Regions from separate parts of the Homo sapiens genome. Here region 1 is linked to region 2. Evidence: fine-mapped expression QTL. A gene starts in region 2. The other region holds a variant in brackets. All regions are shown on one strand. Distances are between the middles of the regions. Region 1 holds the start of LOC105371501 (a long non-coding RNA gene). Region 2 holds the start of KIF1C (kinesin family member 1C).

Region 1 (9,918 bases), 33 kb before region 2:
GTGCCGAGCTGTTTTTTTGTTTTGTTTTGTTTTGTTTTGTTTTTGAGACCGAATCTCGTTCTGTCGCCCAGGCTGGAATGCAGTGGTGTGATCTTGGCTCACTGCAACCTCCACCTTCCGGGTTCAAGTGAATCTCCTGCCTCAGCCTCCTGAGTAGCTGGGATTACTGGCACCCACCACCACGACCAGCTAATTTTTGTATTTTTAGTAGAGACGGGTTTTCACCATGTTGGCCAGGATGGTCTCAATCTCCTGACCTCAGGCGATCTGCCTTCCTCAGCTTCCCAAAGTGCTGGGATTACAGGTGTGAGCCACCGCACCCGGCCAGTGCTGAGCTGTTTTGACAACTTGGACCCCGGGTCCTCTGTGGGTAGGAAAATCAGCTCCCTCTTTGCTCCTCTGGGGCAGCTGCACCTCGGGCCAGCTTTCTGCCTGTCTGCCTGCCGGCACTGCTGGGTCGCTGTACCCAAACGCACAGCCGGTGCCCCGTGGTAAGTCCTGGCTCCCCACCTTCCCCGCCCGCCCCCGGCCACCTCTCCCTCCAGTTGCCCTGGTCTTAGCAGTCTGACCGACTTGTCTTCTGACTCCGGTTCTGTCCCACCAGCCTATTACCTGCCAGCCTGTCTGTTTCCCTCCAGCTAGAAGGTCTTCAGTTTCCAGAAGAACCAAAGCATCTTTGGACCTACCTAGGGAAGGACCTGCCTGTGACCTTTGCCCTGTCCTGGAGGGTCCAGCTTTGGGCTGAATGGCAGCACCCACGCTGGGCCGTCTGGTGCTGACCCACCTGCTGGTGGCCCTTTTTGGCATGGGCTCCTGGGCTGCTGTGAACGGGATCTGGGTGGAGCTGCCTGTGGTGGTAAAAGACCTTCCAGAGGGTGAGTGGGAGGGAGGTACAGGGAAGCGTGGGGCAGGTATGCCCAGAAAGGTGGCCTGTGGCAGCTCTTTGTCCCTTAGCCACTGTGCTCCTGACATGGCATCATTCCTTCCCTGCAGGTTGGAGCCTCCCCTCATACCTCTCTGTGGTTGTGGCGCTGGGAAACCTGGGTCTGCTGGTGGTGACCCTGTGGAGGCAGCTGGCCCCGGGCAAGGGCGAGCAGGTCCCCATCCAGGTGGTACAGGTGCTGAGTGTAGTGGGCACAGCCCTGCTGGCCCCTCTGTGGCACCACGTGGCCCCAGTGGCAGGGCAGCTCCACTCTGTGGCCTTCCTAACTCTGGCCTTGGTGTTGGCAATGGCCTGTTGTACCTCTAATGTCACTTTCCTGCCCTTCCTGAGCCACCTGCCACCTCCTTTCTTACGGTCTTTCTTCCTGGGTCAGGGTCTCAGTGCCCTACTCCCCTGTGTGCTGGCCCTAGTGCAAGGTGTGGGCCGCCTCGAGTGCCCACCAGCGCCCACCAATGGCACCTCTGGGCCTCCCCTCGACTTCCCTGAGCGTTTTCCTGCCAGCACCTTCTTCTGGGCACTGACTGCCCTTCTGGTCACTTCAGCTGCCGCCTTCCGGGGTCTCCTGTTGCTGTTGCCATCACTACCCTCTGTAACCACAGGGGGCTCAGGGCCTGAACTTCAACTGGGATCCCCAGGAGCAGAGGAGGAAGAGAAGGAGGAAGAAGAGGCTTTGCCATTGCAGGAGCCACCGAGCCAGGCAGCAGGCACCATCCCTGGCCCAGACCCTGAGGCCCATCAGCTGTTCTCAGCCCATGGTGCCTTCCTGCTGGGCCTGATGGCCTTCACCAGTGCCGTGACCAATGGCGTGCTGCCTTCTGTGCAGAGCTTTTCCTGTTTGCCCTATGGGCGCCTGGCCTACCACCTGGCTGTGGTGCTGGGCAGTGCCGCCAACCCCCTTGCCTGCTTCCTGGCCATGGGCGTGCTGTGCAGGTGCAAAAGGGTCCCCAGGCTTGGTGGGTGGAACTTAAGGTTGGGGTCCAGGTCCCAGAACAGCCAGCCCTGAGTCTCTGCTCATCCCCAACAGGTCCCTGGCAGGGCTGGTTGGTCTTTCTCTGCTGGGCATGCTCTTTGGGGCCTACCTGATGGCACTGGCAATCCTGAGCCCCTGCCCACCCCTGGTGGGCACCACTGCAGGGGTGGTCCTTGTGGTGAGCAAGTGGAGACATGAAGTGGGGAGGAGGGTGTCCCCTGGAGCAAGTGCATGTCATGCTCAGCCTGCTGCTGTGTCCTCCCTTGCAGGTGCTGTCGTGGGTGCTGTGTCTGTGTGTGTTCTCATATGTGAAGGTGGCTGCAAGCTCCCTGCTGCATGGTGGGGGTCGGCCGGCATTGCTGGCAGCTGGTGTGGCCATCCAAGTGGGCTCCCTGCTTGGTGCCGGTGCCATGTTCCCTCCCACCAGCATCTACCACGTGTTTCAAAGCAGAAAGGACTGTGTAGACCCCTGTGGCCCCTGAGCCTGGGCAGGTGGGGACCCAACTCCACCCCACCTGTCTTCATCGTGAGGCTGCCACAGTGCCTGACTACTTGTGGCCCAGGCAGGCTTCCCCCAACACAGGAACGCTCATGGACACCTGCACACTCCACAGAAGACGTTGGCATGTGAGGCCAGGGTGGGCACCAAAGACCAGGCCCAGAGCCAGGGGACAGGTTGGGGCTGTGGGCTTGGACCCAGGGCCTGAGACCTTTGTGGGATTTGTGCAATAAAGTGTTTTTATTTAAAACCAAAAACAAAAACAAAAGCCTAATGAAAACCTTATAAGAAATATATAATGAAATCAGGAAACTGGATTAAATAATTTTTCATACATATATTATCTAGTGTGCAATTAGATTTAAATACAGATTGTAGTGCCTTTCTTATATCCACAGCTTATCTCTTCTTCTGTGGGTTTTCTTGTCAAAAACCTTTCTTACTCAAGTGAGTCTCTGTCATTTGCTATGGGATTGGCCTTTAAAGACAACGGAGTCTCACTCTGTTGCTCAGGCTGGAGTGCAGTGGTGCAATCTCGGCTCACTGCAACCTCTGCCTCCCGGGTTCAAGCGATTCTCCTGCCTCAGCCTCCTGAGTAGCTGGGATTACAGGCGTGTGCCACCACGACCGGCTAATTTTGTAATTTTAGTAGAGACGGGGGGTTTCACCATGTTGGTCAGGCTGGTCTCGAACTCCTGACCTCGTGATCCGCCCGCCTTGGCCTCCCAAAGTGCTGGGATTATAGGCGTGAGCCGCCGCGCCCAGTGGAAACATGGATTACTTCAATTTTCTTCCTTCTGCTTTTCTGTATTTGTTAAATTTCAAATAAAGCAAACCCTGATCCAAAACCTCCTCTAATAAGCGGGGATTGTTTCCCCTAAGGTCGATCTACCCCCTAGCACAGTCCCTAAGGCAGAAGAAGCTGCTCAATGAAGGCTTCTCTTCCTTTTCTTTGGAACTCAAGAGCACCCACGAAGGGGAAGAAATGCTAATTCTGAAAGGAGTCAGGTCCTCCCTTCTGAAAAACGAAGATGACAGCTAGTCCTGGGGGAAGAGGAAATCCCCGCAGGGCTCCCGCCCACCTCCGGACCTTCCTCCAGACACGCGGAATACAGAAGCCCAAGCCCGGCGCCGCGTCACCCCAGCCAGCCTTCTGCGCGTGCGCCCTCCCGCCTCGCGCCCCCCGCCCCGCCCGCCTCGCACCTCCCCCACGCCTCGCACCCACCCCCCGGCCTCGCACCCCCACCGCCCGCCCGCCCGGGAGACTCACAGGCGCGCAGGGCCGCAGGGGTCCCCTCGGCCACTCGTTCTCAAGGCTCCGTGAACGCGCAAGCAAAGACGTCCTTCGAGGGAACCTTTTCTCCTCCTGGCGGACAAGAGTGGAACGACAGGGCTTGAGGAGAAGTTTTGCCAGGTTGGGGGTGACATCTTTTGAAACTTGACCTCGTTTTTTATTTTGTTTGTTTGCTTGCTTGCTTGCTTGAGACGGAGTCTCGCTCTATTGCCCAGGCTGGAGTGCAATGGTGCAGTCTCGGCTCACTGCAACCTCCACCTCCTGGGTTCAAGCGATTCTCCTCCCTCAACCTCCCAAGTAGCCGGGATTACAGGTGCCCACCACCATGCCCGTCTAATTTTTGTATTTTTAGTAGAGACGGGCTTTCACCATGTTGGCCAGGCTGGTCTCGAACTCCTGACCTCATGATCCGCCCGCCTCGGTCTCCTAAAGTGCTGGGATTACAGGCGTGAGCCACTGTGCCTGAGACCTCACCTCGTTTTGCAAGCGCCTCTCTTCTTTCTCAAGGCCTCATATCC[G/A]GTTCAGAGTAAAGAAAAAGGGAAGGCACCAACCTTGAGCTCCTAAAATGTGCTAGACCCTTTACATGTATTATCAGTAAATCTTCCCAACAGCTTCATTATTCGTCCTGTTTTGCAGAAAAGGAAATTGAAACTCAGAGAAGGTGACTTACCCAGAGTACCACAGCTAATTAGTGAGACGGCTGGAGCCCAGGTCTGTGTGCTCCAGAGATTCTGACTGCAGCCCTCACCTGTTGGCTCTGGACTTGGAGAAAGGAGAGCTGCTTCTCTGCAGCTGAAGAGGCTCTGCAAGAAGCCCAGAACAGGCAGGGCGCTATAGCTCACGCAGGTAATCCTAGCACTTTGGGAGGCTGAGGTGGGAGGATCACTTGAGCCCATAAGGTTGAGACCAGCCTGGGCAGCATAGCAAGATCACTGTCTCTACAAAAACAAAACAAAACAAAACACAGCCAGAGTCAGGCATGGTGACGCACACCTGTAGTTCCAGCTACTGGGGAGGGTGAGGCAGGAGAATCCCTTGAGCCTAGGAGTTTGAGGCCTCAGTGAACTATAGACCCACCACTGCACTCCACCCTGGGTGACAGAGCAAGACCTTGTCTTTAAGAAACAAAACACAAAACAAAACAAAAACAAAAAAACAGAACAGCTTCCCTGGTCATTTGTAAAGAACCTTTAATGGATTGTACCACAGGGCAAGACTTTCCCAGTTATCTCAAAACATATTCCTTCTCCAGAGATTAAGGTGGGGAGGGCAGGTGGGGGAAGGAATAGGAGGAGTTGAGGTGGAAATTCTCATTGGTGAGGCTGTTGGGGACACAGCAGGATTTGTTTTTTTTTTGTTTTTTTTTTTTTTGAGACTGAGTCTTGCTCTGTCACCCAGGCTGGAGTGCAGTGGCGCAATCTCAGCTCACTGCAACCTCCGCCTCCTGGGTTCAAGCAATTCTGCCTCAGCCTCCTGAGTAGCTGGGATTACAGGTGTGTGCCACTATGCCTAATTTTTATATTTTTAGTAGAGACGGGGGTTTCTCCATGTTGGCCAGGCTGGTCTCGAACTCCTTACCTCAGGTGATCCACCTGCCTTGGCCTCCCAAAGTTCTGGGATTACAGGCATGAGCCACCGCGCCTAGCTGTTGGGGGCATGGCAGGTTAATGTCAGCTCCTACAACTGTGAAATTGTTGAGGGATGAGAGAAGCAGTTTCTACAACTCACATCTAGTGACCAGGCTTTTAGATGAAATGTACTATCCCAATGATGCCACAGTCTCCTCCTGCCTTTCAGTAGAGACAGAAGTGGGTAGCAGGAGTGAGAACACTCCTGTACAAGGCAGAGGCTGCTGGCCTTTGACCTGGAGAGATGGACACTATGCCAACCTTAACTGAGTAGCCGGAGCTGTTAATGAGGCAGCAGAGTACCAGAGGTGCAGGGAGAGCCTGTCAGCCAGATTAAGTAGGATATTTAAAGCCAGCCTGCCTTGGGTAGTGTTTAAAACCTATTGGTACAGGAAGCAGGACCTTAGTGACATCCAGGGGACCACAGACTCTGAAGGAAGAAGATGATGGTGCAAGCGTTGTCTGTGACTTGTCAGGAGTGGCAACCTTTGGGCATGATGAGTGAAACCTATTCACGGTCCACCTGAACCAAAATGGCATCCAGTAGCTATGGACACTAACTCTTTAAAAGGGAAAAGAAGGCTACTTTTAGGGCCAGGTGCGGTGGCTCACGCCTGTAATCCTAGCATTTTGGGAGGCCGAGGCAGGTGGATCACGAGGTTAAGAGATCAAGACCATCCTGGTCAACACGGTAAAACCCCGCCTCTACTAAAAATACAAAAATTAGCCGGACATGGTGGCACGCGCCTGTAATCCCAGCTACTCGGGAGGCTGAGGCAGAAGAATCGCTTGAACCTGGGAGGCAGAGGTTGCAGTCAGCCGAGATTACACCACTGCACTCCAGCCTGGCGACAGAGCAAGGCTCTGTCTCAAAAATAAAATAAAAATAAATTAATAAAATAAAATAAAAGGGAAAAGGTGACTGGCTCACGCCTATAATCCCAGCATTTTGGGAGGCAGACATGGATGGATTGCTTGAGCTCCGAAGTTCCAGATCACCCTGGGCAGCATGACAAAACCCTGCCTCTAGAAAACTACAAAAAATTAGCTGGGCATGGTGGCATGCACCTGCAGTCTCAGCTGCTCAGGAAGCTGAGGTGGGAGGATCACTTGAGCCTGGGAGGTTGAGGCTGTAATAAGCTGTGATGGCACCACTGTACTCCAGCCTGGGCGACAGAGTGAGATTCCTTCTCGAAAATAAATAAAAGTTAAAAAAAAAAAAAAAAAAAAAAGGCCAGGCATGGTGGCTCATGCCTGTAATCCCAATACTTTGGGAGGCTGAGGTGGGCGGATCACTTGAGGTCAGGAGTTCAAGACCAGCCTGGCTAACATGCCAAAACCCCATCTCTACTAAAAATACAAATATTGGTCGGGCATGGTGGCACATGCCTGTAATCCCAGCTACTTGGGAAGCTGAGGCCGGAGAATCGCTTGAACCCGGGAGGCGGAGGTTGCAGCGAGCGGAGATCATGCCACTGCACTCTAGCCTGGGCGACAAGAGCAAAACTCCATCTCAAAAAAAAAAAAAAAAAGGTTGGGGGGAGAACAATTTCAAACCAAACCAAATTTGAAGCTCTGAATATAGAAAGGTATAAATAAGACTGGTGGAGAAAAAATGTATTTGATCCCCAAATTTATTCAAGATACAAAAGTTCCAGGTGACAACAACAACAAAAAACATGTCTAAAAGAATAACCAACATATGTCGGTATGGTGTGAGAAGCTAAAAATAAAATAGTAACCAACAAAAGGAAAGCAGCTCCAAAGAAAGACAATGAAGAAAAGCAAATTAATTTCCAAGAAAACCAAGGATGACAGTGTAGAAATGTCAAGACGGAGTGAGCTAGAAAACTGAGATTGTTTGGGTGACTTCTCATGATTCCAGAGGAGGCCCACGAAATAGCTGCTGTCACTCACAGGACAGCCTGGGCAATTTGAGAGGGAACAGAAACTAGACGCAAGTTCATGAAATGCCTGGGAAGATTGAATTTGAGGAGAAGGCCCCATGGATTCTAAGCGAGGTGATGGTGATGTCTGATGTTCTTTTTATTTTTATATATACATTTTTAAGACAGGGTCTCCTGGTGGTGCAATCACAGGTCACCGCAGCCTTGACCTCCCAGGCTCAAGCGATCCTCCCACCTCAGCCTCCCAAGTAGCTACAGGTGTGAGCCAGTACACCCGGCTAATTTATATATTTTTGTAGAGACAGGGTCTTGTTATGTTGCCCAGGCTGGTCTCAAACTCCTGAGCTCAAACAGTCCTCCCGCCTCCGCCTCCCAAAGTGCTGGGATTACAGACATAAACCACCGCACCCAGCCAATACTTGATGGCCTAGAGGGGTGAGATGGGGTTTGGGCTTTAGTTATGTTGACCTGGGTTGGAATCCTAACTTTGCCACTTAAGAACTGTCTGAATTTGGGCAACTCATTAATCTAAACCAACCTCAGTCTTCAGGAGCCAGGCACGGTGGCACATGCTTGCAGTACCAGCTGCTTGGCTTGGGAGGCAGGATTGCTTGAGCCCAGGAGTTCGAGTTCAGCCTGGGCAACATAGCAAGATCTTGATTCTAAAAAAATAAATAAATAGGCTGGGCGTGGTGGCTCACGCCTGTAATCCCAACATTTTGGGAGGCAGAGGCGGGTGGATCACCTGAGGTCAGGAATTCGAAACCAGCTTGGACAACATAGTGAAACCCTGTCTCTACTAAAGATACAAAAAATTAGCCGGGTGCGGTTGTGGGCGCCTGTAATCCTAGCTACTCAGGAGGCTGAGGCAGGAGAATCGCTTGAACCCAGGAAGCGGAGGTTGTAGTGAGCCAAGATTGTGCCATCGCACTCCAGCCTAGGCAACAGAGCGAGACTCCGTCTCAAAAAATAAATAAATAAAAATAAATAAACAAAACCTCAGTCTTCCCATCTGAAAAATGCAGACAAAAGACCTATTTTACCGGGGTACTTTAAAGACTAAATCAAATGCATATGGAATGCCGGCACAGGTAGCACAGATGAAAAATAAACAGGCACTACTCTGAATAAAATCTAAGTAAAGTTTGCCCACAGTATTATTTTTGATTTTTATTTTTTGTAGAGATGGGGGGGGCAGTCTCACTATGTTGCCCAGGCTGGTCTCAAATTCCTGGCCTCAAGTGATGCTCCCACCCTAATATTCCAAAGTGTTGGGATTACGGGTGTGAGCCACTGTGCCTGGCCCGTGCACATTATTAAAGACTGACTTGGAAGGCTGGATATGTGGATTTTTTTTTTTTTTTTTTTTTGAGAGAGTCCCACTCTTGCCCAGGCCAGAGTGCTGTGGTGCCTTCACAGCTCACCACAGCCTCAATCTCCATGGGCTCAGGTGATCTTCCTACCTCCCTAGTAGCTGGAACTACAGGTACACACCACCACACCCAACTAGTTTTTCTATGTTTTGTAGATACAGGGTTTCACTATGTTGCCCAGGCTGGTCTCGAACTCCTGGACTCAACTGATCCTCCTGCCTCAGCCTCCCAAAGTGCTGGGATTACAGGTGTGAGCTTCTGTGCCCAGCCATAAGTGGATTTTTAAAATTATGGATAATATACATTTACATAAGTCAAGGTCTTTAGGGAAAAATAATCCGTCTTTTAAATTAGCAAGCTATTTTTCTCATCTCAAACCCCACAGCATTCTCGGTAACACTCAACTCAGCTCCCTCTGACCTCCAGAAAACTTGGTATTCTATCATTTTCTTGCTCACATTGAGTCTCCCTGGCCAGATTTTAAACTGCTCAAGCAAACACTGTTGCCAAACCATCCATTACATTCCAGATCTTGAGTCACTGTCAACAGGTCTGTGAAAACCTGGCAGTCAGAGGTGTCAAAGTAAAGGCAGGAGCATCAGGGTGTGGAAACCTAGAGTAAACCTAATCGTTCCTTCGCCCAGAGCCGTGGTTTGGCTGCAGTTGGGATATCTATGGTTTTGGCTGGAGACTGACCCCAGGAAGCTGTGAAGCAGTAGCTCAGAGCTTCAAGTGGGTCAAAGTGTTTTCCTGAGAACAGGATGAAAATGTGGGGACTCCAGAGTCTGGCAAGCCAAAGGCAGTGCTGTAGTACAATCTAACCTGCAAAATCCTGGCAATGTGGCATAGTCAAGGGCTCGCTGCCTCAAGCCAGAACATTAAAACAAGCAGGCAACAAACAGTTTTTTAATTTTTCTTGAAATGGAGTCTCGCTCTGTCGCCCAGGCTGGAGTGCAGTGGCGCAATCTCAGCTCACTGCAAGCTCCGCCTCCCAGGTTCATGCCATTCTCCTGCCTCAGCCTCCTGAGTAGCTGGGACTACAGGCCCCCGCCACCATGCCCGGCTAATTTTTTTATTTTTATTTTTAGTAGAGATGGGGTTTCACCATGATAGCCAGGATGGTCTCGATCTCCTGACCTCGTGATCCACCTGCCTCGGCCTCCCAGTGCTGGCATTACAGGCGTGAACCACTGCGCCTGGCCAACAAACAGTCTTAACACAAATAAAATAACGACTGGGAACAATGATGTAGCCTGCCAGAAGGCAGGTAACACAACCAGGATGAAAACAATCAGGTAAGCGCA
Region 2 (8,000 bases):
CCCCATCATGGTATAGGATTTCCCAGCCCCGGTCTGCCCATAGGCAAAGATGCACACGTTGTAGCCTTCAAAGGCGTGGAGCAGCATCTCTTCTCCAATGTCCCGATACACTTGCTGCTGAGATGCAAACTGGGGGTCCTCCGTCTAGGAGAAAGTGGGGGCAGAGAAAAACAGAGTAACCCTGGATGTCTTTATCCTTTGTGTCTCTGTCCCAAGAGTCTTGCTTCCATCACTGACGATTCCCCAAATGTCCTGTGTGCCCTCCCACCCTCATCATTGTCCTTACCACCCCAAGGATCCTATCCAGCCCCTGCTAGTCCTAATTACCCCAAGGGATTCCGCCTTCCTGTCGAGGCCTCAATCACAGCCTAAGGGTCCTACCACCCCCACCCAGGATCATCCTCCCAATTCACCCTGACTAATCCCCTGGGGGTCCTATTTCTTAACATGTCCCCTCCCCAGGACCTAAATCCTCTGTCTCTCACTGCCTTGCTCTTCCCCCAGCCCAACAACCCACCGAAGTGTGTGACCAGTAGGAGTAGTCAAAGGTGAAGCTTTTGGGGGCATCCTTGCTCTGTTTAGGATTGATGATGGCTGAGGGGCAGGAGAGGGTAAAGGAAGGAAAGTCAAGGTCAGGTATTCCCAGTCCCTGCCCATACCCCAACCAGCCCCTGGAATCCAAGCATCCCACTCCTCACCACTGTCCTGACTCTTCTCTCCCCTTTAACATTCCCCACCCCCTCCAGCCACCAAAGCTAATTTTGGCTTCCTAGGACCCGCCCCCACTGAGCTGCCTCCCTGGATTGGGCAATGGAGGGCTCCAGGCCAACATTCCCCCTCCCAGGGACTGGGAACACGGGAAAGGCCAGCCTGCCCCAGCCCCCGCCCTTACGACTAGCACCTGCTCTGTGCCCAGCATTACCCTCCTCTTAGTTTGGCCCAGCGGGACTGGCCTGTGTGGTGGGCCCGGCCTTCCCTGCCTGTGCCCAGCCAGGCCCCGGGGACTCACTCACAGGTGGTGTTGCCCTGCATGCTGACCACACACTTGGCATCCTGGCTGGTCTCACGGGCGTTAAAGGGCCGAACCCTCACTGCCACTTTCACCGAGGCACCAGCCATAGCTCCAGACACTCCTGCCCTCCTCAGCTGGAGGACAGAGAAAGGAGTGGTGGGGTCAGAACCACTGCAGGGACCCAGACATTGCCTCCCAGCTTCTTCCCGGAACCAGTCTCTTCACATCTCCCCCAGAGCCACCCAGCCTCTCAAGGACCCAGCTCTTATTCCCTTGGCTTTCCTCCCAAATGTCACTGTCTTGAGAGACTCCCAAAGGTATTTCTGCCTCTCTCCCCAGCCATATTCCAGCTTGCAGGAACCTGGGCGGTCTCCCCCAGTTACCTGGCGTCCTGGCCCCAGACCAGGGGGGCTGTATCAGTTCTGGCTGCCACCGGCCCTCGTAGGGGGAGCCCCATCCTACTCCTGGGGCCTGGCCACACCAGCTGGGGCTCTGGGAGATACCCTGATTGCGGGGGAAGAGTTGTTAGAAGGCACCTGTGGTTCCAGAGACCCGTCTGGGGTTCCCAGGTTGGAGGGCCAAGGTTACGGGGGGAATAGCAGGAAAAGTACGGACAGCTGCCCCTCTAGAGTGGCTGAATGCAATGTGAATCCAAGGGCAGGGACGGTGATATTTTTATTCCTTGTCACTCGCAAATGTACTGAACGTTCAGATAGAGGACAGAGAGAGAAAGAGGCTGGACAGAGGGCAATTCAGAGAGAGGGGCACATGGGCAGAGACGTGAGGGGGGTGGGAAGAGAGAGAGGAGGGGCAGAGAGTCACAGACACCAAGAAAATTAGAGAAATAAGACAAAAGGCAAGCCTGAGGTCATGCTATGAAGGAAAGAATGGGAGAGGAAAGGAGGAAGAGACACAGCACAGCAAACACACGGTGTTAAAGAGACAGGGTGGGGAACTCCGGCGCCAAAGCACAAACTGGGAGCCCAGAAGAGAGACCAGAGAGGAAACTGCAAATGCAAAACCTGTCCTCAAATTCCCCCACAGTGTCGGCAAGGGAGAATCTAGTTTCCACCTGAGGCCCACAACCTCCATGCACCAGGCCAGTAGTGCAGATGGGCAAAGTCCAAGGACTGTAGGTAGGGCCCAGGACTGGGATCCACAGGGCCAGCTGTGTGGGCTCTAAGCCCCTTGCCCAGCCCCCAGCACTTCCTCCTCAGGATCCGGGACAATGAGCAGGGGAGGGTGGGGTCATCCTGTAGCCATCAGACCAACCCTCAGGGCTCCACCCTTGGGGCGCCCAGAAATACCTGTGTTTGAGGGTAGAGGGTCCCTGGGGCCTCCCTAAAAGGGAGAAAGAAAAGGAAGCCGGCTGGCTGGTGCCAGCCCCAACCTGGGGCTAGTGCTATGGCGTCCACTGCCCTGGGGAAGGTGCCAGGCTGGAGCCCAGGAATGTGGGTGATCGGGTGCCCACACCCTGGGAGGAGAGGCTGAGCAGCCCACGCCCACGGACAACAGGGAGGAGGACCACGAAGGATAAGGGATGCGGAGCCCCCTCCTGTGGCCCCAGTGGACCCCAAACTCCTGTCACGCTGGGCCTCCCCTCACCAGTCTTCCTGGGCAGAGCATGGGAGGGTGAGGGGCTGGTCTGTCCCAGGACAGGAAGGGAGTAGCTGGAATCACAGAAGCTGGCTCAGGAAGAACAGCCCTGACCCCCTAGACCCTGACCAGGGGAGGGAAGGACACTGGTGGGGACAAGCGATGGTGACGCCGTTGCTGCAGCTAATGGGACAGGGATGGGGTGGCACGGCTGGGGGCCAGCGGGGTAAGGGAATAGAGGTAGGGACAGGGGTCGGCCGGTGCAGCTGTGAAGGAGCCGTGGGGTACAAGGAGGATACTGGGCGGCTGGGGTGGGGCCGACCGGCCCGAAAGGGGGTCTTGGGCCACCTGCACCTTGCCCACCCGGCGGTTCTCACACAGGTCCCCGCCCGGCCTCTCAGGGCGGCCATGCGGACCCGTCCTCCTGTCCAGCCAGCCGGCGGCCGCCCGGGCCTGGCACCTCTCTGCGCCTCCGCGGAACAAACAGCACATGATCCCGACTCTTGAGCCTAGATCGCGCCGCCGGACCCCGGCTCCCCGCCCCCCAACCCGGCACATTCCTCCGCGGGCGTCCCTTCCCTCCCCCTTCCCCAGCCCTCACCTCGGCGCGGCGGGGCTCCCGGAGCAGCTCGGCGGAGAGGGACAAGCTTTCCGGGAAGCGTGAGGCGGAAGCGGGAAGGATCTGGGGCCGGTTCGGAGCTGCCCCCGCCCCTCGCCGGGTGCCCGGGCGGCGGGCGGCGGACTCGCGCCCCGGGGGCGGCAGCAGTAGCGGCGCCAGCGGCCGGCGCCCGCCCGGGCAGCGCGAGCTGGGGCGGGAGCGAGGGGCGGGGGACGCGCGAGCGCGCGCGGAGGGGCGGGTACGCGCGGTCCCGGGAAGGAGCCGGGAGCGACCCGGGCTACTCTTGTTAAAGGGGCAACGCTCCTGGCCTGTGGGGCCCAGCGAGCGGGAACGTGGGGACCGAGCTGCGGACGCAGAAGGGCGAGCAGACGCCGCAACCCAGGAGGGTTGCAGACGCCTGAAGAACAGGGAAACGTCGGGGGCTGACCCGCGGGGGCACCCAGGCCCCGGCCCAGTTCCCGTCGCCGCCGTTGGAGGCGCGTCCAGGGGGCGGAGCCTCCTGCCGAGGCCCGCCCAGAAGGTGGCTCCGCTCAGGCCCCGCCCTCAGACGAGCACCGCCCGCCGGCTCCTCCCGCGGCTCGAATCGCCGTCTCTCTCCTCCCCGCCCCGCCGAGTTCTAGAATTCGCCGCGCAGCTGCTTCAGGTGCTGGGGCCAAATGCGGCCGGCCGTGGCGCGGCTACTCGGGCGCTCTGTCCCCGCCTGGCCCTCAAGTTCGGCCGCCCTGGACGCCGCCTGAGGCCCAAACAACCCCTTCAGGCCCGGGTGCCGCCTAAGGCCGGAGCTGCCCTCTCAGACCCGGGGCGTCCCTCAGGCCCCAGCCTGCCCTTCAGCCTGGGCCCACCACCTCAGGGCCCCTCTCGAGGGAAGCAGCCCCCAGTCGTGCCCTCGGGCGGGGCTGCCCGGAAGGTCCGGCCACGCCCGGTCCACCTGTCGAGGGTCCCCGTCGCCCTTTCAGGCGCAGGCCGCGCCCTCCGGCCCGGCGCTTCCCTCCAGCGGGGCTCCAGGCAGCCCCTCAGCCCCAGCCGGACCCTCGGGTCCTCATCCACCCTCGCAGGCGCAGGCCGTGGCTACCCCGAAGTCAACTGTGGAGGATCCTTCCTGGCTTCCTTCAGCTCCATCCTGCCCTTGGATCTAGGTCACCCGCTTGGACCCAACTATCTGAGGCCCGAATGCCCCGCAGCTCCCGCTGCTCCCTCGCGTTCTGCTGACCCCCCTCCGAGTCAGGACATCCCCTTTAGACCCCACTTTAGGCCCTTTCAGCCCAACTCCAACTAGCCCCATCTGCCGCTTCCGCACGGTATACTTCTCTCCGCTTTTGACCTCACCTGCTTTCCCAGCCCATCCCTAGTTCCCTTGGATAAATACTAGTTCACCTCTACAGTTCCAGCTGGCTGCTTCTGTCCTTCGGGAGCCTATGTGCACTCTCTCCTAACTTATCTAGTATTCTTTTTTTTTTTTTTTTTTTTTTTTTGAGACGGAGTCTTGCTCTGTTGCCCAGGCTGACCTCGGCTCACGGCAACCTCCGCCTCCTGGGTTCAAGCGATTCTCCTGCCTCAGCCTCCCGAATAGCTGGGATTACAGATGCCTGCCACCACACCCGGCTAATTTTTGTATTTTTAGTAGAGACTGGGTTTCGCTGTGTTGGCCAGGCTGGTCTCGAACTCCTGACCTCAAGTGATCCGCCCACCTCAGCCTCCCAAAGTGCTGGGATTACAGTCTTGAGCCACCGCGCCTGGCTTTTTTTTTTTTCTTCTTAGAAACAGGGTCTCACTCTGACGCCTAGGCTGGAGTGCAGTGCAGTGGTGCGATCTTACCTCACTGCAGCCTTGACCTCCCGGGCTCAGATGACACTCCCACCTCAGCCTTCCGGGTACAAGCGCACACCACCACACCTGGCTAAACTTTTTCGTATTTTGGTAAAGAGGGGGTTTCGCCATGTTGCCCAGGCTGGTCTCAAACTCCTGGGCTCGAGCAATCCACCCACTTCCGCCTCCCAAATTGCTGGGATTACAGGCGTGAGCCAGTGTGCCCAGCCTTAACTGCCCTTTCTCCCCACCCCAACTGGCCTTCAGGTCATCTTTGGCTGTCCCTATATGCAACTGACCTCCCTATCCACAGGCATTCCCAACTGCCCCCTCCTTCCCTGTCACCAGTTGACCATTATGTCCACACTTAACTTTTTTTAATTTCTTTTTTTATTTTGTTAGAGACAGAGTTTCACTCTTGTTGCACAGACTGGAGTGCAATGGCGCGATCTCAACTCACCGCAACCTCTGCCTCCCTGGTTCAAGCAATTCTCCTGCCTCAGCCTCCTGAGTAGCTGGGATTACAGGCATGTGCCACCATGCCCGGCTAATTTTTGTATTTTTTAGTAGAGACAGGGTTTCTCCATGTTGGTCAGACTGGTCTCGAACTCCCGACCTCAGGTGATCCACCCGCCTCAGCCTCCCAAAGTGCTGGGATTACAGGCGTGAGCCACCACACCCAGCCAACTTTTTTTTTTTAAATAGAGATGACGTCTCTCTGTATTGCCCAGGCTGGTCTCCAACTCCTGAGCTCAGGCAATTCTCTTGCCCCAGCCCCGCAAAGTGCTGGGATTACAGGTGTGAGCCACTGCACCCGGCCCACACAATTAACTTTCACTAACCACTCATAGTTGATTCATTGAGAACCCTCAATTCTGTCACTTCTCTTACCCCCAAATGCCTCCACCCCACCCAGTCTCCACTGTCATCATTTTTCAATTTCATTGTCCCATATTGCCAGTTGTCGCTTAACTGCCATCTGTAAATTTCACTTATTCTGCACATTTAGCTTCAGAAGATTTGCTTTCTCCTTTATCTTTTTACCACATCCACTTTTCCTGTGCTCACTATCTTCAACCTAAATGTTCAATTAACAGTCCAGCACTACAAATACCTTTTTTTTTTTTTTGAGACAGAGTCTTGCTCTGTTGCCAGTCTGGAGTGCAGTGGTGCAATTTCAGCTCACTGCAACTTCCTACTCCCTGGTTCAAGTGATTCTTCTGCCTCAGCCTCCGGAGTAGCTGGGATTACAGGCATGCGCCACCATGCCCAGCTAATTTTGTATTTTTAGTAGAGACGGGGTTTCTCCATGTTGGTCAGACTGGTCTCGAACTCCCAACCTCAGGTGATCTGCCTGCCTCGGCCTCCCAAAGGGCTGGGATTACAGGCATAAGCCACTGCGCCCAGCCGCTACAAATACCTTTTAAGCTCTCTCTTTTTTCAGCATCCATACATTCTTTTTCCATTCTCTAGATCTGCTACTGGCCTCATCCCTACAGACATTATATGAATGAATGCCTTTTTTTTTTTTTTTTTTTTTTTTGAGACAGAGTCTTGCTCTGTCCCCCAGGCTGGAGTGCAGTGGCGCGATCTCGGCTCACTGCAACCTCCGCCTCCCAGGTTCAAGCGATTCTTCTGCCTCAGCTTTCTGGGTAGCTGGGACTATAGGCGCGCGCCACCACACCCGACTAATGTTTGTATTTTTAGCAGAGATGGGGTTTCACTATATTGGCCAGGCTGGTCTTGAACTCCTGACCTCATGATCCGCCCGCCTTGGCCTCCAAAAGTACTGGGATTACAGGCGTGAGCCACCACATCCAGCCCGAATGAATGACTTCTTTTCCATTATCCTCCCAGCACCAAAAAGGAGACTAACTACCCAGCCCCGTCCAGTCATGCAGGTGCAGGATGATGGAGTCAACCTCATCCCCTTTGCCAAGTGAGTCCTCCCACTGGGTGGGGAGCATGGGGATGGGATGGAGGGGATATTGCATGCCTGGGTCCTTCCCTAAGAGGATTAGGAAATAAAGAACGGGAAATGCAATGCCTGGTCTCAGGGGATTGATGATTCATTAATTTATTCAACAAATAGTTTGAACACTACAATGTTCCAGGGACTGTATTAGGCACTGGGGATTCAGCAACTAGCAGGATAGGGGTCCTGCTCTTGTAGAGCTTACATTCTAGAGAGGGGAACACAGAATGTGCAAACAAATACAATTTCAGCTAATGATGGGTACTATTTAAAACATAAAACAGTGGGCCAGGTGTGGTGGCTCACTCCTGTAATCCCAGCACTTTGGGAGGCCGAGGCAGGCGGATCACCTGAGATCAGGAGTTCGAGACCAGCCTGGCCAACATGACAAAACCCCATCTCTACTAGAAATACAAAAATTAGCCAGGCATGGTGGTGCTCGCCTGTAATCCCAGCTACTTGGGAGGCTGAGGCATGAGAATTGCTTGAACCCAGGAGGCAGGGGTTGCAGTGAGCCAAGATTGTGCCACTGCACTCCAGCCTGGGCGACAGAACAAGACTCCATCTCAAAAAAAAAAAAAAAAAAAAAAGGCCAGGCACGGTGGCTCACACCTGTAATCCCAGCACTTTGGGAGGCCGAGGTGGGTGGATCACGAGGTCAGGAGATCAAGACCATCCTGGCTAACAAAGTGAAACTCGTGTCTACTAAAAATACAAAAAAATTAGCCGGGTGTGGTGGCGGGCGCCTGTAGTCCCAGCTACTCGGGAGGCTGAGGCAGGAGAATGGCGTGAACCCAGGAGGCGGACCTTGCAATGAGCCGAGATCACACCACTGCACTCCAGCCTGAGTGACAAAGCGAGACTCCGTCTCAAAAAAAAAGGCCGGGCCCAATGGCTCATGCCATAATCTCAGCACTTTGGAAGGCTGAGGTGGGCAGATCACCTGAGGTTGGGAGTTTGAGACCAGCCTGACCAACATGGAGAAACCCCAT

The links. PIP is the estimated chance that this variant, and not a neighbour inherited with it, causes the effect.
Region 1: its variant is fine-mapped to the expression of KIF1C in whole blood (TOPMed, PIP 0.91).

The regions. Positions count from the first base shown.
Region 1 is chr17:5,025,434-5,035,351 of GRCh38, reverse strand. KIF1C (kinesin family member 1C) reads right to left here. Exons shown (of 23, transcript NM_006612.6): 23 at 6,951-9,918. SLC52A1 (solute carrier family 52 member 1) reads left to right here. Exons shown (of 5, transcript NM_017986.4): 1 at 1-491; 2 at 639-875; 3 at 994-1,873; 4 at 1,968-2,091; 5 at 2,183-2,750. The coding sequence starts at 746. The coding sequence ends at 2,395. LOC105371501 (a long non-coding RNA gene) reads right to left here and starts at 4,546. Exons shown (of 4, transcript XR_002958101.2): 1 at 4,455-4,546; 2 at 4,181-4,331; 3 at 3,683-3,778. RefSeq lists an enhancer at 3,435-3,574 and a silencer at 3,595-3,684. The variant G/A (reference allele first, on the strand shown) is at 4,225.
Region 2 is chr17:4,993,366-5,001,365 of GRCh38, reverse strand. KIF1C (kinesin family member 1C) reads right to left here and starts at 3,416. Exons shown (of 23, transcript NM_006612.6): 1 at 3,210-3,416; 2 at 1,396-1,516; 3 at 1,014-1,146; 4 at 518-594; 5 at 1-144. The coding sequence starts at 1,119. It overlaps INCA1 (inhibitor of CDK, cyclin A1 interacting protein 1), which reads left to right and starts at 3,844. Exons shown (of 7, transcript NM_001394789.1): 1 at 3,844-3,870; 2 at 6,891-6,972. The coding sequence starts at 6,929. RefSeq lists enhancers at 489-1,099, 1,100-1,711 and silencers at 2,954-3,053, 3,104-3,973, 4,014-4,103.